4 linked regions of the Homo sapiens genome follow. The protein of the gene in region 2 interacts with the protein of the main gene of each other region in a pairwise test. Each region holds a gene or a part of one and is shown on either strand. Other genes may lie near its edges. The genes, in order: BEND7, EAF1, TNFAIP8 and ARID4B.

Region 1 (7,038 bases), on a different chromosome or scaffold from region 2:
CTGAAAATAAACAACCACATTTCAATGTGGCAGCTGTTAAGTTTCGGAGGAGGATCTGCAGGGTGACTTGAGCACAATAAAGCCACACACAAAAATAAGTAAATATTAGGCATCACATGGTAAGTGCCAGAAAAGAGTAATGTTATTACTTAGTGCCCAAGTGATCGGAAGAATAGATAACTCCTAGGCTGGGCACGGTGGCTCACGCCTGTAATCCCAGCACTTTGGGAGGCTGAGGCAGGTGGATCACGAGGTCAGGAGATCGAGACCATCCTGGCTAACATGGTGAAACCCCGTCTCTACTAAAAAAAATACAAAAAAATTAGCCGGGTGTGGTGGCGGGCACCTGTAGTCCCAGCTACTCGGGAGGCTGAGGCAGGAGAATGGCGTGAACCCGGGAGGTGGAGCTTGCAGTGAGCCGAGATGGCGCCACTGCACTCCAGCCTGGGCAACAGAGCGAGACTCCGTCTCAAAAAAAAGAAAGAAAAAAAAAAAGAAAAGATAACTCCTAAATCTGGGAGAAGGAGAGAGAATGGGGTAATAAAAACAGAAATACAGTGTTTTCCAGTTTGAAAAAGCGTTTTACCATACAGGATTTCGCATGTGCGTCAGGAGGGCCAACGTTATTCTTCTATTACAGAAGATGAGGAAAACCCCTCAAGAGTGTTATCCAAGGTGTTAGAACTGGAGCCTGAGATTCAAAGCAAGGTTTTCTGACTCTAAATCCAACTTCTCTCTGCTACGCTATGTAAACTGAGGCGGCTTACAGGCCAAGGTAATATTTGAATTGAGCTTTAAAAACCGATAGGAGAGACAGGATTTTACTAGAAGGAGTTTGGAAATGGGGTAAGGAATGGTAGGAGGCTAGGATGGAGAAGGAGCCGCAGTGAAATGGCAGAGATGAGAATGGGAAGGTGCTTTAGGAGGGAATGATGTGATCAGTTTGACACAGCACATGTTTTCAGTGAGGGTGAAGAGCAAGAGAAGGCTGGAAGGGCGGTTTAGAAACAGACAGCGAACTGAAAGAGAGAGGAGAGCGGGGCCTCACTCCTCCAAGGCAGCATGGTACAGTGGAAAGATCGTGGCCAGGCCATGTCCAAATTCCAGATCCAGGCTCTTGTCTCCTAGTTCTATGACCTTACGTACATTAACAATTCTAAAGGCCCATTTTTCTCATATAAAAGTAGAAATGACAATACCTTCTCAGAGCTGGTCTCAGTGTTAAATGAGATAAAGTTCGGAAGTGCCCAGCACACACCGGAGGCAGTAAACAAGCCCTAGCTCCTTTCTTCCCAGCAGGAGGGGCTTTCCCAGGCCATAGCTCCTGCCCACCCCATTCCTTCTCCCTGTGGTGCCTCCTCTGCACCTGGAAGTCCTGGTTTAGGAAGCCGGTTGGCTCAAGGGAAGGCGGTTACATGAAAGCTGTGGACAGGGAGATGGGTCGGGTCAGACCGTGCATACTAGACACTCAGTGAAGGGCTTTGCCTTGATTCTAGGCCCATGACAAGGGAGCTGAAGTCTCTAAGCAGGAGAGAGGGTGAGAAGTTACGTACTGAGATCAGCCCACGTGGGCAGATTGGAGCAAGGAGCTGTGGCAGCTCTGACAAGGTGAAGAACTCAGAAGTGGATGTCAGGAGACCCCACTGGAAAGTGTGGTCAGCTACTAATGACCATGTAGCCTTGGGCAAATCACTTTCATCCCTGAGTTGAGGTTCCCATTTGTAAAACATGAGGCCGACCCAACAGCAACCTCACAGTGTAGCTGCAATAGAAACTAAATGAGAGATGGAGTGCCCGGATGGCCTAACTACAAATGCCTCCCAGACTTTAGGCAACAAGTCATACGTGAGAACGACCAAGTTCTGCATCCACAGCTACCGAAACATATGTTTATGTGCACATAAATTGAAAGAAGCCATCGGTATTTAAGTTCCCTCAAGAGGCTCTCCAAACTTTGACTTTGCTTGCAATTATTTTTGAAGCCATTTTTCGGTCCTAGAGTATAATCGGACAAATCAGGTGCTGTATGAAGCCTTGGGAACTGTCTAGACCAGGAGTTTTAAAACAGTGACTGGGGGCGCCCTAACATTCTGCAGAGGCCCACAGAGGAATGTGAAATGCACGTAAGGCTCTCTGGGTCTCCTCGACCTTTTTTCAAGCAGCTCTGCTCCCCTTTGATCTGCTGGACATACTGGGGGTTCCGCTTGGGAGCACGTTTGAACAAAGCCTGCCATGCGGTTAAGGGCTTGCTTTGGAGACAGGCAGACCCTGGCTTGCATCCTGGCTCTGGCACTGAGTAACTCTGTGAACTCCTCAAATTCTTCATCCATAAAGAGGGAAAAACAACACGTTTCTTGGGACAATTAATGGGATAACATTTACAAAGTCCTTTACATAGTGCTGGCACACAGCAAGCTCTGGGTAAATAACACTATTACTGGCCACGTACCTAACCCCAAGAGACACTCCTGGTCATCTGTCCCATTCATTCCACCACCAAAAAAGGAGAGGACTTACAAGAAGGAGCACAGGGACACAAGGACACAGTGGGGCCAGGGTGCTGAAGGTGGAGCTTTTGTGGGGAGGAACAGAGGGGAAGCACTTGCTTCCACATACTGGGATTTTGGGGTTCCACTTTTCCCCCTTGGCCCTTCATTTCCTCTGAGGTTGCAACTCCTGCCCCAGGTATGGTGACACACTAGACCCTTCTTCCTCTTGGAAGTGGGGCTCAGCTCCCAAGCCTTTTGAAACCAACCAAGAACCAGGGTGGGACCCAGGCCACCTGACTCCAGGTGAAGACCTCCTCCATTTTACAGACGGACCTGCCGAGTCCTCCAGGGAGGAGAACGATGTCGTGGCTGGGAGATAACTCTCTAACTTGTAAAAGTGCAGAGGAATTGTTCGAGTGTGTCCTCTTTGGGGAGATTCTGGGGACTCTAGTGGGTGCAGCTGTCATCAAGAAAGCCACTGAAAAGAGACTTCAGAGTTTCAGAGATGTCGACCCTGCTCAGCTGGCATGGCTGCCACACTGTGTGCTTCATCTATGGGAAGCTGAATAACTGAACTGAATATTAAAAAGAATAACTAGAACAGGGCTTGGCATGGATGTAAATGGAGCGCAATGAATTTGTTGAATGAATAAATGAATGAGACTGAACACCTGACAGATAAACATGTTTCCAATGTACATACTATGATAAATCTAACCCAAAATCCAATGTGTGAAAAGAGACTTCATTTTATATTTGCATTACTGCTATGAATAATAAATTAATTGTCTCATTAAAATCCTTCTAAAAGTGCCCTGCTAGCAGCTAAGGCCTCCTCCATGAGCCTTGGCTTTGCCTGGCTCCACAGGGCAGAGGGGAAAGATCTTTTGAGAGGAGGCCTGGGTTTACTCCGGCCTCTGCTATTCGTGAGGTCAGGTAACTGAGCTTCGGTTCCCATCATTATAGGAATCATTATATCTGCCCTGACTACCCCACAGGTATATGGTAAAAATCCCGAGAAGACAGATGTGAAAGCACTTTCTAAACCATAAGTGCAACACTCATGGTCGAGCTATAATGATGCTTATTGGCGGCTCCCTCACCCTTCCCACCTGGAATCTTCTCCAGGGAGGAGAAATACAGGAGCGAATCTTTCCTGTAGTTCAACATCTCTGCTTTGCAGAGCCCTCCCCTCTACCCCTTCCAACTCTGCATTTGCTGTTGCCCTGATCATTCACATTTGTCATTTAATTACCGTTCACAGACAGGCGGTTAAGTGGAGTGTTCAAAGCTCAGACAGACCTGCACTGGAACCCTACCTGTGGCACTTCCTACTTGAGAGACCTTGGGCAGGTCACCTCGACATCTCTAGGCTCATCTACAAAATGGGGATGACGGTAACTCATACAGACATGCTGCAAAGAGCAAATCAGGTCTTTCATGTAAAGTGCTCAGTGTGCTGCCTTGCACACAGTTAAGTGCTCAAACAACTGTAGCTCTTACGATTGCTGAATACTGCTCCGTTTCCTGAATTTGTCCTGTCTCCTCCCCAGCTGGATCTGAATCCCTGAGAACAAGGTCCCTGTCCTATCCATTTCTGTGACTATCTCTGACCCCACTCCCATTCCAGAAAAGTGCTGAGTTCAGAGTATCTTCTATAAAGACACTGGCTGAACTGATTTAAGAGAACTGTTTCCTTTCAAACAGTGCTTAAATCTTCACTGTAGTCCCATCACAGCCAGCTTGAGAAAGTCAATGTCCACAGGGTAAAGTAACGTCTTCTGACCCTATTATCCAATTAAAAATATGTGAGTAATTCCTAAAGCACGAGGCCAAGCCATTTACACTACTGAGCTACCCTACCATGTGAGATACACTACGTTCGTTAACAGCCTAAACATGTTCCAGAGAGGTAGACTTGATGTGGGAACCTCTGCCACATTCTAGAAGACTCTTTTTCACCTAGAACATAAACTTTGATCTTATAGATGCAGATACTATTAAAGGGAACACATATGTTTGAATGTAGAAAATCCTATAGACCATCCCTGGGACAGTGTGTCAGTACTTTGTTATAGGGGAAAGAGTTCTAGTATTTTGGTACCAAACCCCCTTGGATGTCATAAGCTTCCCATATAATTCTACATCTTTATGGACAGGCTTTAGCAATTTATAAAATAAACATAATTGAAATCTTTATGTTTTGAAAAGTGTAACTATAAAACTATAAACTATAACACTGTCAACAAAAAATTCCTACTCTCAGATGCCATCAGTAACTATTCTCAATTGCTCCAGAAATCATGTTGCTGTGACAATTTCTGTTATTTTTTCTTAACTGACCTAGAGATCACAAAATAAAAATGTTATTTGGGAACCAACTACATGATGACCCAAGAATGAGCAAAAGATTGAAAATAACCCACAGCACACTCCCAGGCTGTTCAATCTTTTGTCTCTTGATGTTGAAGGCCTTCTGGAGCAACCACTTTGAAAGCGTATCTATCTCAAGCCTGGTCCTTCATTGGAATTCTTGCATCTTCCTCAACTTGGACTAGGAAGAAGAAAAGCAACAACGTCTATCATCTCTGGGAGTTTCCAGCTTACTGAATCCTGGGCACTAGCATCCTGTTGCTCTTCAGCTTCCCCTCTCTTATCCTTACAATTCACTTCCTTCGTAGTGACCTTACCACTTTTCTAGTAGTACACAACAGAAAGTGCGGGAAAGCCTGCCTTGCTGGAGAACTAAATCAAGGACATGATGTTCCCTTTGTATGGTGAACGTAAATTTTCTACTAAAGGGTAAATTCGTTATTTCGAATGGCTATATAGAGTGGTACTTTGATAATACAAAATTCCAGCTGACCAACCAGGCACGGTGGCTCACGCCTGTAATCCCAGCACTTTGGGAGGCTGAGGCAGGTGGATCACCTGAGGTCAGGAGTTTGAGACCAGCCTGGCCAACATGGTAAAACTCTGTCTCTACTAAAAATACAAAAAATTAGCCAAGCGTGGTGGCAGGTGCTTGTAATCCCAGCTACTCAGGAGGCTGAGGCAGGAGAATCGCCTGAACCTGGGAGGCAGGGGTTGCAGTGAGCCGAGATCATGCCATTGCACTCCAGCCTGGATAAAAAGAGTGAACCTCCGTCTCAAAAAAAAAAAAAAAAAAAAAAGAATTCCAACTGACCAAGTTTAGGGGACTGGAAAGACTAGAATCCAAGAATATTCTCTTTCTGGGCCACAGCATTTCACTTGATTATTAACCTTTTGGCTCCTAGCTCTCTTAACAGTAAACAGGTACTGGGAGCAGTGCTGGCCCCAGTGATATTCTTTCCCTCAGCAGAAAGATCTATGTGCTATCAATGATCGCTCATGTAAGAAATGCTGACATTTCCCTCCTATTTTTCCTCTTAAAGTATATATTAATATTTGACTTCTTCCCAATGCATCCCGACCCACCCTTTCTATCCCTCAAAGCAAAACCAGAGAGATCCTGGCGAGAGCTTCGTTTGAAGGCTGACCCACACCGGGTCTGAGCAGCAGTCCTGCTACCTGAAGTCCCCCTTGATGGGGTAATTGTGGCTTTGCTTGTAATCGTTCTCGCTCTGACCTCTCTCATGTTCTGCTTCCTTGCTGTGCAGTGCTGTGCCCTCACCCTGCTACCTGGGATTGCAGAGGTCCAAGATGGACAAGGTTGAGGCCCAACGCCACCATCTACTCTCCACCCTGACCTTATGGGTACTTCACTCTTAGAGGCAAAATCTTACGTGGTTTCATTTTTGGCTGATTGTGTGCAAATAAAAAACTGCACATCCAAAGTCTTTCCTGTACAGTATTTGCACCAACACTGCACATGGAAAAGGTGGCAATGTTTGTGGCTACCTACCCACCCATCATGCAGCTACACTTGCTGGAAAGTCTCAGAAATGCTGTTTTAGCTCTGCTCATCCCTGACGTGAGCTGGGAACAAGGATGGTAAGAGGAAAGCATGCTGTTCCCCCTGTCCCAAAATGCTGGTGTGAAAGGAGCACAAAGTCAGGAAAATGAGGAGCTGCTTGATGATAACTAGCACTATCAAGAGCTGGTTAGGCAGACAGTCACACTTTTATTTTCCTTATGCTTTTTGACTGTAGATTTAATTTAATTTTGTCATGGCAGGATTAGCAACTGGGCCACAGAGGTGAAGGGACATTATAAGACAGCACATTAATCCTCTATCCCACCCAAGGCAGAAGCAAAACCAAACAAATAGCAGCTTCCTGGAAATTGAATTTCTGTTATCCAGATGTCAAAGATGTAATACCCCAATTACACAAACTATTGCCAGTGAAGCATGCCAACGAATATGCAATGTAAATGGGGTGAGCGCAGAGCCACAAAACTGCACAGTCAGCATCTGGCTCTGTGAGTGAGTGATAATTAGCACTGTGTGTAGACACTAATAAACATTTATGTCTGAAATTACAACTTTTAGCAATGTTAATAAGGGATATATTGGCAATCTGTAAAATAAAAGGTCTTGAAAAGAATGTCATACATTAAGCAATGG
Region 2 (5,554 bases):
AAGGAATATGGCCACTGCCTACCTAGAAGTTTATACAGTCTAGCAGAGGAGCCAAGACCACAGGTAAATGTGAGCACTGCTGAAGCAGAAGTGGAGAATGGAAGCAGGAGGTCAGGATTTCTAGCCAAATGTCAGCTGGGAGTCAGAGGTGTGTGTGGCATAGCATTCCAGGCAGAAGGAATCTGGTAAACTAAAATGACAATAGGATATGTCTAGGGATTCAGTTTAACTGTTGCATGGTTCTCAGACCCAAACTAAGCCCTCCTTCTCAGACCAAGTAAAATGGCCTCAGATGTAATTCAGTTTTGAACTTCATACCTTTTAAAAACTGAAGTTCGTCCTTCAGTTTTGAATGTCACACCTTTTAAAAGCTGAGGTATACTTCCTAATGATTATAAACACCAAATTAAAAAGGAATCCATTTAGTTAGCTATTTAGGCTTAAGCACAGAAGGTTCTTAAAAGAACCCTATATTGCTCATTGATTTCTAAAAGAAAATGAAACCCACCAAGACAAGAAATGTGTTGCTGACCTTCACTTTTATTTAAATATAGTGATCTTTTAAGAGAATAAACAAAAAATACTTTACACAGCAAATATTTTACATAAATGTAAACATGCATGTCTACTTCATAATTAAGCAAAAAAACTTTTAGGCACAAGATTTTAAAAATAAAGAATGAGACAATGAAACCAAGACTGGAATAACAGAAGTAACAAAAACTCACATTTCCTAACTCTTCAATTGGTCTTGTCTTCCAACCTATTGGTTAAGGCCTGAGTTTCAGAAATCCTACCTTCCTTGCCAAATAGAAACATCCACTTTGGCTGTATATAACATTATCCACATAACACACTAATTCTCTTTCAAAATAATGTAATAAATATACCATTCATACACACACACACACACACACACACACACCCTGCTGAACCAGCCTCTCAAATAGGAAAATAAGGATTTTGGAATTTTCAAGTTTTCCTACAACCAAAGCACATACACACACATTAACACCTTACATAGAAAAAATGATTCTGCTACAGAAATAAAATCGTTAGTGAGTGGCATGATTACAAACCTCTAGTTCATTTGTATTAAGTTTCTTCAATCACAACTTTACTAAGGCTTACTAAGCGCCTCTGACACTTCAGATTTAATTAAGTTTTTCATCTCATCTAAATGACCCACAGTACAGTAGACATTGTACAGCACAAAAAAAAGGCAATTTTAATAATTCAGTTAAAGACTTCTAAATCATGAAAGTCAGCATGGATACTTTCAGCTGTCTCCAAATGCCTGGAATGTTTTCCTATGTCTATCCTCTGCACTTCACTGGCTGGGTAGTCTTCTCTGCCTTCTACCCCACCAGGCTACAACCATTTGAATGTCCATTCCTGTGGATACCCCAGGGAGGAGATGAGAATGACAGTCCCTGCTTTTTTTTTCCCTTTTTCTTTTTGTAGAAACAGGGTCTCGCCATGTTGCCCAGGCTGGTCTCAAACTCCTGGACTCAAGCAATCCTCCCACCTCAGCCTCCCAAAGTGCTGGGATTACAGGCATGAGTCACCACAGCCAGCCCAGTACCTGCTTTTAAGGAGCTCATACCGACCAGAGTTCAAGCAAAAAAAAAAAAAAAAAAAAAAGGTCAGTATGTACACACAGGGCACTCCATGTGGGTTGAAAAAAAAGACAAGAGTCCACAAAGATGGTACCCACAGAACCTCAAAAGTGGGGTATGGAGGGAGAGAAGGAGAATGAGAGAAGGCACAGAGGCAGGAAGAACAAGTCCGGTTTGGCTGGCAGGAGGGCATCTGTGAGAAGCCATCTGTGAAGCCAAATTCTTGATTTCTAAAAAGAAAAGATTGCTTACTCTGGTGGGTAAAGCTGGAGGGCAGAGGGCAGAACCACCAAAGGCTTTGTGCAGAGAACAAAATTGAAGCCGTGCTAGAGAAAAACCATACAGTGTTGGGCAGGACAGATGACAGGACAAACGGTCTGAAGCTCAGGAAGCTTGACTCACCAAGCCAGTGCCACGTGCAAGCATTTCCTATAGAAACACGTCTTGACCCAACATGCCAAAAACCATAGTTCTGTCTACAGAAATCAAGGCTTTCAGAAAAAAGTTGGGGAGGAGAGAAAGAGAGAGAGGCTTAAATAGATATTTTTAGTTCAAGTTCCTGGAACCTGCCCCAGTTTGAGCAAGTTAAGAGCAGTGAAACAATTCCTACATCCAGTAACAATTCAAGTCTCCTGATCATGACCTTGTGAAACCTTCCCTGAGCTGTCATTACCAAGGAATTATAAAGCAATTATCAATCCACTATAAATAAGTTCCTACCTGCCATTAAATCCACCAAAATCTCATGATGGGCTGAGAGCCCAGCACGGGGTCCTAGCGTAGACCTATTACCTACACTAGGGTAGGTGGTGTGAGCATGCTGCTGGGCAGTGGCTCTCTGGGCTCACTATGATGATGAAACAGTTGACTCTATGAAGTTTAACTCTAATGAAAGCCCCTATGACAGACCACCTATTTCCTTTCTAAGTCCAGACTGCTTCCCCTCCACTAGCTGGGGAGGGAGAGGCCATATGAGTGGAGGGACCTGTGGAGGAAAAATTATTATTACTACCTTGATGTCCGCTGAACCAAAGTGGATGGAAATTTCTCAGGACATATTCATCCAAACTACAAAAACAGGTTACTCCATACTGATTACAGGATGATTTATCACACATTCATTAAATATAGAACATTGACTAGCAACCAGTTTCCTCCAACAACAGATCCATTTGGAAATGGCACACTGTAGAAGGCAATCTTGTGACTTCCTTCTAGTTGTATATAAAAAATACAAATCGGTCAGGGAGTCAGGTACAAAACAGTGGTACAAAAGCATGAATAGATACGCCTTATCAAAGAATGTGCTCATTTCATATTGCAGAACTTCTATCTAGATTCTGATTTTTAGAAACTTACTGCTGGTTCATTTGTTCGGAGAGGTTTCTTCACACCTCTCTTCCACTCCTACCTCCCCTTGCTAAAATCCACTGACTGAAGAATACTTAGTATGGATCCACATGGAACCAAAATCCCCAACTGAATGGAGTCACATGCATCAGCACAGTGGCTACCGGTTTCATCTGCTCACCCAGCCTCATGTATTTAGGGACTGAATTCAAGCTAGAAGCACCCAACACTTTTGTCTTTTGGAATCTAATCCAAGTGCCAATGTACATCTAAAAGTCCCATGTATAGGAATCTCTTGATTCCTACAAATGAGATTCAAGGGAGAGAACAGTGAGGAAAGCCCAGAGAGGGGGCAGGAGACTGGCCACAAGCCAGGTGTGTACTTCCCTTTCTTAGTCTGTAAATGACAGGTTGAGCTGGCAGGACTCCATGGTCCTCACCAACTGACACTCAAGGACTCCATTCTGTATTCTGAGGTCCATTTCTATCCAGGCTTGTCAGGCTGAGTCAGACAAAACTTCCTTACCACTTTGTGTCAACAATTTAAAGTGGTTTTAACATACTTCTATGATGTAGTTTGAGGTTTTCCCTCTCTCTCCTACCCATCAAAGACTTCATTCCACTGGTACCAACCACTTGGCCAAACTGATGGCTGCTGAGGTTTAAAACTGAATCTCTGGCCTGGTGAAGATATGGCCTTTGAGTAACTTAGACCAGGGCACATTTATCTGTTTTTCATTAACAATTTTAACTAAATAGAAATATAATTCTGTTAGCTCTTCTACAGGTCTACTTAAACTTTGAAAGATGAGATTGTTCAAAAATGACACGAGAAAATCACCCATCACCACTAAGTTAAAGACTTGAATATGTGAGAGTTCCAGAGCCTCAAACTCCTACTACAGTCACTGATCCATAACATTTTCCTCTTGCAATGGACTCCACGCCAAAGTAGCTCAGTCTTGCGGCATGTTTGTGCACCAAAAAGTAGGTTTCGAAAGATCCAGCACTAGTCATCACTGTCACTGCCAGACTCACTCAACTGCAAGTCATTTCCTATTTAAAAAAAAAAATAAAGTAAAATCATAGAATCAAACAAAAGTACAGAATTTAAAAATGACTTCCTCATAATTTTTTGTTAATTGCCTTGGCTATCACACTACAGTAAAACCTTGTTAATTCAACTTAGGGAAGAAAATCAAATTGGCTCACTGAAACAAAATGGTGCTTTTGGTTATCTACAAAGCACAACAATACTGCATATTAGGGTAGAGCAAAGGAGAAGTAAGCTGGATAACTTTTAAATGGTTTAATAAATAGCAAGAAAATATTTAAAATATGTCTGGGCGCAGTGGCTCACGCCTGTAATCCCAACACTTTGGGAGGCCAAGGCAGGGAGATCATTTGAGGCCAGCAGTTGGAGACCAGCCTGGCCAACGTGGCGAAACCCCATCTCTACTAAAAATATAAAAATCAGCCACGTGTAGTGGGACATGCTTGTAATCCCAGGTACTTGGGAGGCTGAAGCAGGAGAATCGCTTGAACCCAAGAGGTGGAGGTTGCAGTAAGCCAAGATTGCACCACTGCACTCCAGCCTGGGCGATAGAGTGAGACTGTCTCAAGGAAAAAAAGAAAAAAGAAAAAAAAAAAAAAAGAAAATATTTAAAATAACTGATCACCATTCGGAAGAACTGATCACATTAAGTTGCTTTATAAAGGCAACTTAAGAAAATATCCGGTAGGCTTCCCATTAAGAAAGGTGAATACTGTTAACACCAGTAATATGCTAATGCAGTATCTGCTCTGGCACACCTCTGTCCAGGATAGTCACGTTATCTTAAATTTCAAATCTGAACTAACGTGCTTTACAAAACCCCAGATTCCTGTTTACTAGGCAGAATTTAGAAGAATATAATTACTTAACATTTCAATCTAATACAATAGGAATACATATAACAGAACCCCAGTTGATACCACTTGTAGCAAAAGTGATTTTCTTTATTTCCAAATTGCTAATCTCTAGGCCAGTTCTCCTCAAAGTCTATTCTGAGGACTCGGGGTTCCATGAAACCCTTTCAGGGGGGTCTGATCCTGAGGTCACCCCTTTTCTAACTACCTAGAATGCCAGATTTTCTTCATATACTTCAGTCTCTATGTTAAAGATGGGGCATATAATGGCAATGTCTTGAGATATTTTTGGTTGTCATGGGGCTGGGGAGGTGGGAAGAGACTGGTACTGGCATCTAGTGGGTAGACGTCAGGGATGCTCTTAAACATCCTACAATGTGCAGGACAACCTCCCACAAAGAAGACTTATCTTGCCCAAACTGCCCATAGTGCTGAGGTTGAGATTATCTCTGCCTGGTCCACAATAGTTGGATTAACTAGGTTAACTTCCCCACTGTTACCTCTAGACCTTCCAACTTCCTTAAAGGAAGGTGTACCAAGAGAGAACATTCATCAGGGTTCCAAAAAGAGAAAAGCATAGAAAATTAGCCCTCTGTTCACCTTCAAAACAAATAAATTTTTGTTCTTGTTTTCCTGTTTTACTTTAGTATCAACTGCATTAAAACACACCGAGGCCA
Region 3 (6,950 bases), on a different chromosome or scaffold from region 2:
TGAGCCACTGTGCCCGGCCATAAATACCATTTTCTTAAGGCTAAGAGAGCCAAATAACCTGGGCCAGGGAGAGGCCATGGAGAGATACCCACTTAGGCTTACTTGTGTTATGGAAGGGTAAATGTAAATGTGTCTGAGGATAATAGGAAGAACTCAAAGCCTACAGGCCTAACCAGGTGAGACCAAGACACAGATCTCTCCCGCATATGGGGAAACAGGAGTGACAGCCAACTTTTTATATAGATCACGGAAGCCTTCGAAGGCTTTCAAGGGTGTAGACAAAAATGATACAAGAGAAGTTGAAGAAGGTCTCAAAGTGAAATTGAAGGAAGCAGATTCAGCCTCAGCAGGTTAGAAAAAAAAATGACCATTTTTGGTGACCTGAAGTTTTTGCGAACTAGAGGCTATAGGTCCATAACTAGTTTACAGAGGTGCTTCATATTTTTCACTGCAGAGAACATATAACATTCTTGAATGTGAGTGGAATATTTGATACCTCCTAATTAAAAGGTACCTTGTCTTCCCAGTTCTGCCGGCTGGCCTTCTAATTTGTGTGAGTCTGAAAACTCACTGATCTCCCCTTTTCTTAACAGACATCTGGGGAGCTGTGAGCAAAAGGCCTAAAAGTCAGGCCTTTAAAAAAAACTCTTTGAACAGCTTTATTTAAGGCATAATTTGGAAAGAGATTTTTCTGCTGCCCTGTGATAAAGTTCAGTCGAGAGTTGGTGTTAATAAACCTTCCTTAGAACCAAGGTGACTTGGAAAGTTGAGTTCTTTAGGTCTGTGGTCAAATTAACAAAATTATGTCAATAAGCCCCAGGTGAGTAGGGTCAATTTACATATGACACACACAAATATTTGATTATACCTCAATGAATGAATAAACCTTCAGAATCTTAGCTACCATTTTCATTCTTCCATCTTGACACAAAAGGTGGGAGTTCCATTATTAGACACTTGCAGGAGTTCAACATAGTATTTAAATTTAAGTACAGTTTGTTATTAAATGAGAAGTGTTGCTAACTTAGTTGCAATTTTGTATCAGGCGGGCGGTAATAGTTTGTTGGTATGACTTCCATACATGTTGCCATGTGAAGGATGTTTGGGGTGTTTCTTAAACATACAAGAATCAACAAGTCCCACCTACAGGAGATAACAAATCATTATGATGTACTGGACCATTATTCACTGGGGCTAAGAAGTAAATTATCCCCTTTTGAATAAAAGCACAGCAAAATCAAAATGACCTAGTACATATCTGAGAGCAGCAGAAGGCCAAGGGGAGCCCTAGAGAATCAGCTGCCCTTTGTCACCATGTTGCAGGGTAGGGGTATGGGGCAATGCAGCCTGCCCAGAGCAGATGGCTTTGAGGTTATACGGGAGACTGAGGAATGTACTTATTCACATAAAGCCTTTTAAAATAAGCTGAGCATTCATTGCTCTTGAGCTAAAACAGAGCATTCTTCCCCAAGGTGACTGCTTGCTTGCATTTAAATACAAAAGAAGTTTCTCTCCAGGCTTCCTGAGGCCGATGGTGAATGTTCAAAGATCAACGAAGCTAACATGAATCTAAAATGAATTATAAGGCTGACGGAGCGCTTGAACTATTCATTCAGCAGTTGTAAAACAAGTAGCACATTAAAGGACATGTATTTTAACATATCTTATGTGGTTTGTCCCCAGTTGGACTTGCAAAATGACATTTAATAAATATTTCTTGTAAGGGTACTTTCTAAAAGAAGAGAGTGAAAGTAATTCTGCTGTAGGCAGATTGGGCCTGAAATTTGGGTTGTCTGGATTTGCATAATCATCACCTTGAAAAGGTGTTGCTTTACCCCAATTATAGATCAGTGGAAGCTCTCTTGTGTAGCACACGGCCCTGGTGAGATCCCTTAAGATCTCTTGTGGACTATCTGTGGACATCTGGGTTGCAGTGAGGAAGGGCAAGGATAGATGGTATAGGGAGAGAGGGGCAGAATGTTGACTTGGGCAGGACAGGAAAAGCCACTTGTGACTGGTGAGGGAGCATTTCTTTGGGTTCAGAATCATCCTCATCTCAGTGTATCTCCCCATAAGTCTGAGATTACTGAGTGCAAGGTATACATATCAGCAGCTCCTGACTCAGGATGTGTGGCAGAGGGGACCATGAAGTTAACTGTGACTTTCGGAAGGGTGCAGTCTGTTACCCTTTCGGTGGCGAGGTCAGTTTCCGGGAGGCTCTGCAACACTGATATTTTCCAGATGTTTCTCCTCTTCTCCCTTCTCTGGCTGGCTATATCTTCCTCCCTTCATCCTGCTCTTTCAGTGAAATTGAGATAACATGTTAGAATCTTAGGCAGGTTAGAATCTCTCAGCAGTAGGATGTGATTTAATATCTAGACCTCTTACATTAATATTTATAATAGCCTTCACTGCTTGTGAATAGCATAAGCACTCTTTTCTGTTCAAAGTCAATACTGAAATAAAACCCAAGAGTATGTTTTATAAAAATTTACTTTTAATGGTGCAATGGTAATAATCTATGTAGTCCTTATGGTTTTCAAATCCCTTTGTGCTTATATTACCTTATTTAATACAGACATAAATCTGTGAAGTAAATAATACTATTTTTATCTTCATTTTACAAATGAGGAACTGGAGGCTCAGAGAGGTTAATTTGCATAAGGTCATACAAATGATAGATGGCAGAACTGGATTTAAGTTCAGACTCCTTAAATCCATGTCTTTTGTACGTTCTTTTCACTAAATTTGCCATAGTGTTTCTATTGGTTTTTGCCTATATAAAATCGGAAACGAAGAAAAAGAAACGAACTGGAAAATAAATTTGTCAAAAGAGTATATTTTTTTCTCATAATTTCCAAGCGGATCTTTCAGATATGTTATTTGAGGACTTTTTGCCTCAGACTGGCGATAAAACAAGTGTTCTACAAAATACCTCCGTAAGACAGGCCTATCAGTGGCAGCTCTTGTCCCCGCTTTGCAGAAGGGAAAACCAAGGCTCCACAGAGCTAAGGGGACTTCCTCTCAGCCAATTTGTAGGGGCCTGTGGGCCAGACCCGGGGGCAGAATTGAGATCTGTTGTGAAGGCTGTCCGGCTTCTTTATTCTATCAGCATTTCAAATCCTGAAAACCTCCCCTTTGGCATTTTGAAGGAATTCATCCCCAGTTTTTGCTGGTAGCCGGGAGGGAACCGTGCTCTCCCCCTGAGGAAGGCCCTTTGGAGTAACTGCAGCAATGAGTGCCCGGGCTGTGCTTGGAGTACCAGTGCTCGCCCGGGGCTATACTGAATGAGTAAGCAGCCCCGTCTGCTTTTGCTGTGCAAAGGTAAGGGTGGAGGCCGCTCCACTTTCTTCAAAAGGCCCCGCTCTGGGACTTGTGAAATTGTGCTCTCTTAAGCTGGTCCTTGCAACCCCATGGACGATATCCATGCGACTTTCCTACAAAAATAACATACCAAAGCCGCTTTAAAATCCGTAATTTTTGGGTTGCAAGACTCCAAGACAAAGTCAAATGGGCATCAAAAAATGTAATCCAAAAATACAGAGGCATTGGTTCTACCCTATATGCATTTGCTATTTATGTAAAACTACAGTGTGCTCTGAGATGAGACTTTTTTTTTCTTTTTATACCTTTTTTTCCGCCCGTCTGGTGCGTTTGCCGACGGTTCTTCTCGGCCCTGTGTCTCGGGAGAGTCGGCTGCCGTCTGGGCCTGTGCCCCACCTGCGTGCGCCCGGGCCGAGCCAGCCCCGCCAGGTCGCCTCCGCCCGGCTGCCGGCCCGAGCGCGCGGCTCCGGGGGCGGACTCCCGCCGCCCAGCTGACACGCGATTCGTCACTCTTGCAGAACTTTCCCCCTGAAAATCCCTGCACCAGAACCCGCTCTCCCGCCCCGGGGAGGTTTTGATTTTAGTGGCTTTCTTCCTTTTATTTTCCGTCGTGTGCGGATTTCGCTGCAGAGCGAACTTGCGGCTCGTCCGAGTACATGTGAGCGGTAATCGCCCCTGCAGCTGGTTATCCTGACATTATGCACTCCGAAGCAGAAGAATCCAAGGAAGGTAGGATTCTGGTTTCTCCTGGGGGCCGGCCAAGTTCTGCGGAGGAATTTGGAGGAAGGCAGTGGTAGAAGAGGATGGGAGTTTTAAAGTGAGCGGTGGGCACTTTGTCCGCTTGCCCTGCGCCTTCGAAGCCAAGTCGGAGCTGGATAAGCGGAGCCCGGGTCTCATCTTGGGCTCCCTTCTCCCCCCGCAGCCGTTCAGAGGGGAGGGGAGGAAAAGTCGGACCTAGTTCAGCCAGCCCACTAAGTCTGCTTTTTAGCTTTCTCTGGAAACGAAAGAGCCCCACTTGGACTCCAAGAATGCAAAATGTGCTTGGAAAAGGGCTGCCTGCCTGCATCAGAAAGACTGAAAGCGGGATCCCTGGAAGAGCCCTGAGTGGAGGGTCCCTTGAAAAGGGGTTTGAGAAATTAGAAACGCTATATGTTTCCGGCTAAAAGGGGAAGCTGAGTGAGGGGAAGCGAAAATCTGTATTTGAGAAATAGATTAATTTTTTTTCATTGCTGGGTTTTCAGCAGTGAGTTCATTTCGTTGGGGGTTTGAGGGGGCTGAAAGATATGAGGGGGTCCTTGTGCAGCTTGAAACTGAGAAGAGTTTGTCTGTTTCTAACTTCGCAAAAGCAAAGGGTTTCATTTACTCCTAACAGAGAACAGGTGACAGGGCTGGAAAAGCTCCAACCAAAACACAATTATACGCTGGTGTTAGTTTGGGGAGTTTATTTGTGTGTGAGTGTTTGTATGCTTTGTTCCTTGAAACTTTATGTATACAAAAGTTCTCTTGTAAGTGGGGGGTGGGAGTAAGGGTGGTTGGGGAAAATTAGAGAGTAAGAGAGGAGACTATTCAAGATTGTGAAATACTCTTTCTTTTCATGTAGTCTCTTGGAAAGCTGGTTAATTTCAAGTCAATCACAGCAGTTCTGGCAGAGGAGCAGCCCCATCATTTCTCCATTTGGTAGACACCAGTTAGGAAGAGCCCTTGAAACTTGTCCTCTTCTGCCTTTTACTGATTCCCCTCCCAGAGGAAAGCTTTGTGTTTCACCATGTAGTCTTTGTGGGCTCACGTTTACCTTATTATGCTGTGTGAGGGAAATAGTCAATAAAAAGGAGGTTTGTTTAATAGAAATACGGGGCTGGCATGAATGAAAAATGACAGCCAGGAGCATTGTTTTTGAGTTTGATGTGGAGTATGGGGGGAGTAATGCTTTCTTGCCGTGTCCTGTGTTCTGATGGAGCTGTGTGCTGATAGATGCTTTTCTTTTCTATGTCTTTATACCAGCAGTTTATTCAAAGTCAAAGGTAGTTGAAGGCAAATAGGAACCAGGCTGAGAGAACTCAAGGGTGAACTTCTGTGTGAATTACAAGTAGCACTTAAGCTGGCGTTTTCTCTCAGGTGTGTTTTCCCTGTCTTTTGAGAAAGAGAGAGTGGGAGAGAAAGTGGAAAAACAGTATCCCAAAGTGTGTATTATACATTCCCATAGCAACATCCACAGTCTTCCCTCCTCGAGGGCCCAGCTCTCTGGTTTTAAGTTTGGAAGCAGCCTGCAAACTGGCCTATGAAGAGGTTAATGGGGCCCCTTCTGCTTGTTCCTCACCTTCCCTCCACTTGTCATCATTTACATTCTGCAGATCGGCCACAAATGATATGGCGCTCTGCTTTTTAAAGAAAGCCCAGAATGTTTCTTTTAAAATAATCTGAGGTAGTAGAATTTTAAATTGATAGCAATTAGGGTGGGATACTGAATAACTCTTGAGGGAGATTGAACACTTTATTAATCAGATAGAATCATATAGCTTCTGCCAGGAAATGAAGGATAGGTGTCTGTGTGTTTTGGGTGTGTTTTCTCCAAGGCTGGTTCATTGGCTGTAATCTAGAACCTTCTGGTTAGCTACCACCACTCAGATGTCGATGAAGCGAGCTATGTTGTGTAAATAACTCAGTTATCTTCTCTATCGTTACTAGTCCTTTTCCTCTTATACGTAGCTTTTTTTTTTTTTTTCATCCTGGTGAACTTATGTATCCCATTTAGTGTGAGATCACCATGAGTTCTTAAGAATGTCTGTATTGCAAGAAAACTGCCTTTGGATGCTTCATGCCTGATACGCTGTAAGAGGAGATACTTTTAAGTCATTTTTCTCAACTGTAGTGAGAGACTAGTATACTTTGGGGTTGAATCTAAGTCCTTGGAGGCCAGCATATTTTTGCATATGCGTGAATGTAGAAGCAAATGACTGGGGATATTGTTAAGCCATCAGAGCTTAAAACATACTTGACTCTGTGCCAGGGGTGCTGGATATTTGTCCCCAGCCTATAGCCATCTCCTAAATAATTGATTTAATTTTTCCTGCTTAACAATGAATAAGTGATTGTGCTTGGGTATTAAACAGAGAAAAATAATCCAGGCCTTGCTTTATTAAAAACTGAATGAGTTTAAATTATTCAGACATAGAATAAATAGGAAAGAAGGGGAAATGAAAGAAGAAACTCACTTTTTTAAAAAGGTGACTACCATTAAAAAGAGGATATCAACAGTTTCCAGTGGATGGGGCTTCCTGAGGAGATAGGCTGATAGCCGTGTATTTGGCATTTAGTTGTTTCCTGAGTAAATTGCTTAATTATGAAGTAGTTAAAGTGAGTGGCAGTTGAGATCTCTGAGAATCTTTCTAGTGCTAAGCATCAAGGCATCCAGGGCTCCTTTGCTCTGGATGTTGAAGCATTGATACCAGAAATTGAGAAAGCCATTGTTAAGGGGTGGGCGAGGTGTCACTTTGTGGGGACTTGGAAAAGAGTGAGGATTGAGTGGTGAGTGAGTCTGGCTCGCTCCTCCATTGCCCATAGTAGCCATTTCCCACCACCACCTCACCCAGTTCTTACTCTCATGCCTCACCAGGCCTGCTATTTCA
Region 4 (4,816 bases), on a different chromosome or scaffold from region 2:
TAAAAGAATGCCTAGGCTGGGTGTGTTGGCTCCCGCCTGTAATCCCAGCACATTGGGAGGCCAAGGTGGGTGGATCACATGAGGTCAGGAGTTTGAGACCAGCCTGACCAGTACGGTGAAACCCCGTCTCTGCTAAAAATACAAAAATTAGCCAGGAGTGCTGGCAGATGTCTATAATCCCAGCTACTCGGAAGGCTGAAGCTGGAGAATTGCTTGAACCCGGGAGATAGAGGTTGCAGTGAGCTGGAGATTGCGCCACTGCACTCTAGCCTGGGTGACAGAGCAAGACTCCGTGTCCAAAAAAAAAAAAAAAAAAAAGAATGCCTAATACATTCCTTATCTGATTAATGGACTTTTAATTTTCATAGGTAGAATCTTCCTTTTTTTGTGTATCAATTAATCCCCTGTGATAATACGTGCTGGATATGTATGTTCCAGTCAGTCATCACATACAGAAATGAACTAAAATTACTAAATCTTTTAGAAACAAAAATCAAGGATTCACAAACTATGGCATTTTATTTCAGAGCCTTTGCTTACATTTGTACAATATATTACATAATTCTTCATTGTTTGCAGATCCTAATATATACTTTATAGCTTTTATTCTATAAGCTTTTTTCTTCAACATTTTGCTGTCAACAAATCTTTACAGTCCTGTACAAATTTGAATAACTTGAAACCATTTTCAACAAAATTAGTTACTGTAAGCACACACTACAAGACTGAAAATGCTTTTCTTAGAAAAGTTGAATGTAAAGGATTCTGACACGTTAGCATCTACAACAAAACGCATTGAAATTCCCACGTCGTATTGCCAGGAAACAAAGAAAACATGCCAGCCCCATCCAAAAAAAGTACACAGAACTACAATTAAAACAGTAAAACAGTCTGTACAATAAAGTACTGTGTATTAACAGTGCCAGATATTAAATAGCTTGAATGAACACATCCACAATATACAAATGTCTTACAAAGGTGAAGAATTAAATACAAGTGCCAAACAGAACAGAGATTGGAATCATACAACATAAAGTCAATACAAGTGAAAACAATTTTGCATTCATTTTGGATTTTATACAAGGCATTTAATTTTATAGGCCTACCACCCCCATTAGCTATTTATATTTAAAATAACCACCATCCTTTTGAGACAGTTCCTATCAACAATCTTGAACCATACTAATACATTACTTGTTCCTGAAGTCCTTTTGTTGTAGCTCATAATAAAATAAGCAATACAAATGAATTATCTGTATTTAAGGGAAAAGAAACATTTACAAGAAAACACAAAAATATAACTGTTATAATTCATTATGAATAAATATACACTTTGAACTGGCTAAGTACAATCTTTATACATTGTTTAAGATTTAATACAGTTTATTAGCCATTTTCTTTTTTCACACAATGTATATCAAAATTAAAAAAAAATACTGATTTATAGAAAAATGGCAAAGTACAGTAGTTCCATTCCAATTTGAAGGGCCATGAAAAGCCACTGCAAGACCTTTTAGCCTAATTCAAACCTGTAAACATGTTCAGTCTTTTTTAAAGAGAATCTTTAATATTTGGTTACCAGGATTGATGTCTAATATCCTGTTAACTGCAGGTTTTGAATTTATTACATGTGCTTGACTTATACAATTAAAGCCACCCTAAGGTGACTTGCTTTAAAAAACAATTACCTTGTACAAATGAAAATAGGTTCATATTTTTTCATAAATAAATGGAAAAATATCAAATGTTCCAGCTTTAACAAAATACAAGGGAATACATATACAGTAAGTTATCTTAACATGTTCTGACCCACCCCTTAACTATGCTTACTGTATTGTCTCTACAGGCAGTGAAAAGCCTCCATTTGCCACAGTGGAAGGCCTTCCAGTTACCAGACACACAATTCCCAGACAAGTTGGAAACAATTATTGCTTGAGGAAAAGCAGTTCATTGTACTTTTTCTTCATAAAAAAGTGCACTTAAGTGCCAAGTCAGCTTGTCAAGAAACAATTTTTAAATATAAAATAGTGCTTGTCTGATATTTTTTTGTGCCACTGTGCAGTATAAAAAAAAAGTGGCCCTCAACAGCCATTAAGTGCAAAGTGCTTTAGCAAGTCCTGCTGTCACCTGCACTCAACTGACATTCCATTTTGTGATGCGCTGGACATTGACGGTTCAGCTAAAGTTAACATAACAGCAGCTGTTATGGAACTGGATGAAGGTGAAGAGGAGGATGAGGATGTAGCAGCACCTAAGGAAAAGGGAGACCAAACCAAGAGCTTAATAAAAATTTATGTCTAACAATAGACAGAAAATACTAGTCCTCTGAACTAAAATTCCGCTATATTGTCCAAAATCATTTAGCTTACAACAACAGTGGTCAATTCTCACAGTTCTACGATGTGAAGAAAGGAAAAGCTAGTGTAGCTCAAGAAGCTAGACAGTGCCCAACTACAGAAGTAATGAAAAGGACAGACCAGGGAAGGCTCCTGCGTGGGTCAAAGAGGGAAAGAACTGTGCCTAGTCTACAAGACACAGAAATAAAATACAGAATACACTTTTTGTAACAGTGAAACAAGTATCAAAACAGGAAAAATCTGCAATCCATCCAAAAATCATTTGTCCCCTCCTAATCCCTCCATCTTTCTGTACTTAGGAGTTTTCTTGTACATGTAAATGGTGACAAGAGTGGGAGGCTTAATTGCTTCTTCAAGTTGGATCAAAACAGTGCATAGCTCAACTGTTGCATTCTCCGCCACTAGGTTTACAAAGCAAATAACACATTAGTTATTTTCATCAGAGGAAGTCTCTCACTGTTTCCTTTTTTCGTTTTTTTTTGTTTGTTTGTTTTTTGAGACAAAGTCTCGCTCTGTCTGTCGCCCAGGCTGGAGTGCAGTGGCTCGATCTTGGCTCACTAAAAGTTCTGCCTCCTGAGTTCACGCCATTCTCCTGCCTCAGCCCCCCCAGTAGCTGGGACTATAAGCGCCCGCCACCACGCCCGGCTAATTTTTTTGTATTTTTAGTAGAGATGGGGTTTCACCATGTTAGCCAGGATGGTCTCGATCTCCTGACCTCATGATCCGCCCATCTCAGCCTCCCAAAATGCCGGGATTACAGGTGTGAGCCACCGCGCCCAGCCTGTTTGTTTTTTTGAGACGGAGTCTCACTCTGTCGCCCAGGCTGGAGTGCAGTGGTGCGATCTCGGCTCACTGCAAGCTCCGCCTTCCAGGTTCACGCCATTCTCCTGCCTCAGCCTCCTTTTTTTTTTTTTTCCTTTGAGATGGGGGTCTTGCTCTGTTGCCCAGGCTGGACTGCAGCAGTGCAATCTCAGCTCACTGCAACCTTTGCCTCCTGGGTTCAAGCAATTTTCCTGTCTCAGCCTCCTGAGTATCTGGGATTACAGGCATGCGCCACCATGTCCGGCTAATGTTTCTATTTTTAGTAGAGATGGGGTTTCGTCATGTTGGCCAGTCTGGTCTCGAACTCCTGACCTCAGGTGATCTGCCTGCCTTGGCTTCCCTAAGTGCTGGAATTACAGGCGTGAGCAATTGCGCCCGGCCTCTCTGTTATAAATTAGTGTTCATAAATTAATATTTTTAAATACATGCACAGATTTAAAAAATTCATTCAGTACAGGGGTAATAGGATAGAAAAGCAAATCTCACTCTCATCCAGGAACCTCCTAATCACCCAAATTCCCTTCCCCATTGCTACCAGTTGATTCATATTCATTACAACTCTAGAAAAAAGGCTGGCAAAAAAACTACCCCAGGGGCAAATCTGGCTTACTTGTCTTTGGAAAGAAAAATTGTACTGGAACACAGCCATGCCTATTTGTTTACATATTGCCTATGGGAGTTTTCACACTTACCATGGCAGAGATAAGTAGTTTCTACAGAGACCACATGGCCCACAAAGCCTAACATATTTATTGTCTCTTTACAGAAAATGTTTGCAACCCCTGTTCTACAGGAATTTTATCTCTAGAATCTAGAGATATGATATGCAAATTTAAAATATATAGATATAGCAACACCTTTAAAAACATAAGTGGAGGCCGGGCACGGTGGCTCACACCTGTAATCCCAGCACTTTGGGAGGACTAGGTGGGCGGATCACAAGGTCAGGAGATCGAGACCATCCTGGCTAACACAATGAAACTCAGTCTCTACTAAAAATACAAAAAATTAGCCAGATGTGGTGGTGGGCGCCTGTAGTCCCAGCTACTAGAGAGGCTGAGGCAGGAGAATGGCGTGAACCCGGGAGGCGGAGCTTGCAGTGAGCCAAGATTGCACCACTACACTCCAGCCTGGATGACAGAGAGATACTCTGTCTCAAAAATTAATAATAATATTACAAAAATTAGCTGGGCATGGCGGCACGCACCTGTAGTCCTAGCTACCCGGGAGGCTGAGGCAGGAGAATCGCTTGAACCGGAAGGCAGAGGTTGCAGTGAGCCAAGATCGCGCCACTGCACTCCAGCCTGGTGACTGACCGAGACTCCGTCTCAAAAAAAAAAAAAAAAAAAAAAAACCACACACACACAAGTGGAAGCATAGTTCAGTGTCTGACTTTTTTTTAAACAATATATTTTAAGAGATTGTTCCATATCAGTACATACAGATCCTTTTCTTTTCAAAGTTGAGTAATATTCTACTATATTACAACTCATAACTTATATATTTCACTACACTGTTCCTGCATTGGTTTTAGTTTTAATTTTTTTGGTAAGAATGATACCTTATTTGGGCCAGTCGCAGTGGCTCATGCCTGTAATCCCAGCACTTTGGGAGACTGAAGCAGGCGGATCACGAAG

The links.
Region 1: the proteins of EAF1 (region 2) and BEND7 interact in binary tests that used the Homo sapiens proteins (3 or more experiments, as listed by UniProt).
Region 3: the proteins of EAF1 (region 2) and TNFAIP8 interact in binary tests that used the Homo sapiens proteins (3 or more experiments, as listed by UniProt).
Region 4: the proteins of EAF1 (region 2) and ARID4B interact in binary tests that used the Homo sapiens proteins (3 or more experiments, as listed by UniProt).

Annotation. Positions count from the first base shown.
Region 1 is NC_000010.11:13,519,005-13,526,042, forward strand, and holds part of BEND7 (BEN domain-containing protein 7), read right to left. Parts: intron 1-7,038.
Region 2 is NC_000003.12:15,437,580-15,443,133, reverse strand, and holds the end of EAF1 (ELL-associated factor 1), read right to left. Parts: intron 4,026-5,554; coding exon 3,979-4,025; 3' UTR 521-3,978; downstream 1-520. UniProt on the Homo sapiens protein: Acts as a transcriptional transactivator of ELL and ELL2 elongation activities.
Region 3 is NC_000005.10:119,352,069-119,359,018, forward strand, and holds the start of TNFAIP8 (tumor necrosis factor alpha-induced protein 8), read left to right. Parts: upstream 1-3,950; 5' UTR 3,951-4,022; coding exon 4,023-4,053; intron 4,054-6,950. UniProt on the Homo sapiens protein: Acts as a negative mediator of apoptosis and may play a role in tumor progression.
Region 4 is NC_000001.11:235,166,402-235,171,217, forward strand, and holds the end of ARID4B (AT-rich interactive domain-containing protein 4B), read right to left. Parts: intron 2,252-4,816; coding exon 2,124-2,251; 3' UTR 501-2,123; downstream 1-500. UniProt on the Homo sapiens protein: Acts as a transcriptional repressor. May function in the assembly and/or enzymatic activity of the Sin3A corepressor complex or in mediating interactions between the complex and other regulatory complexes.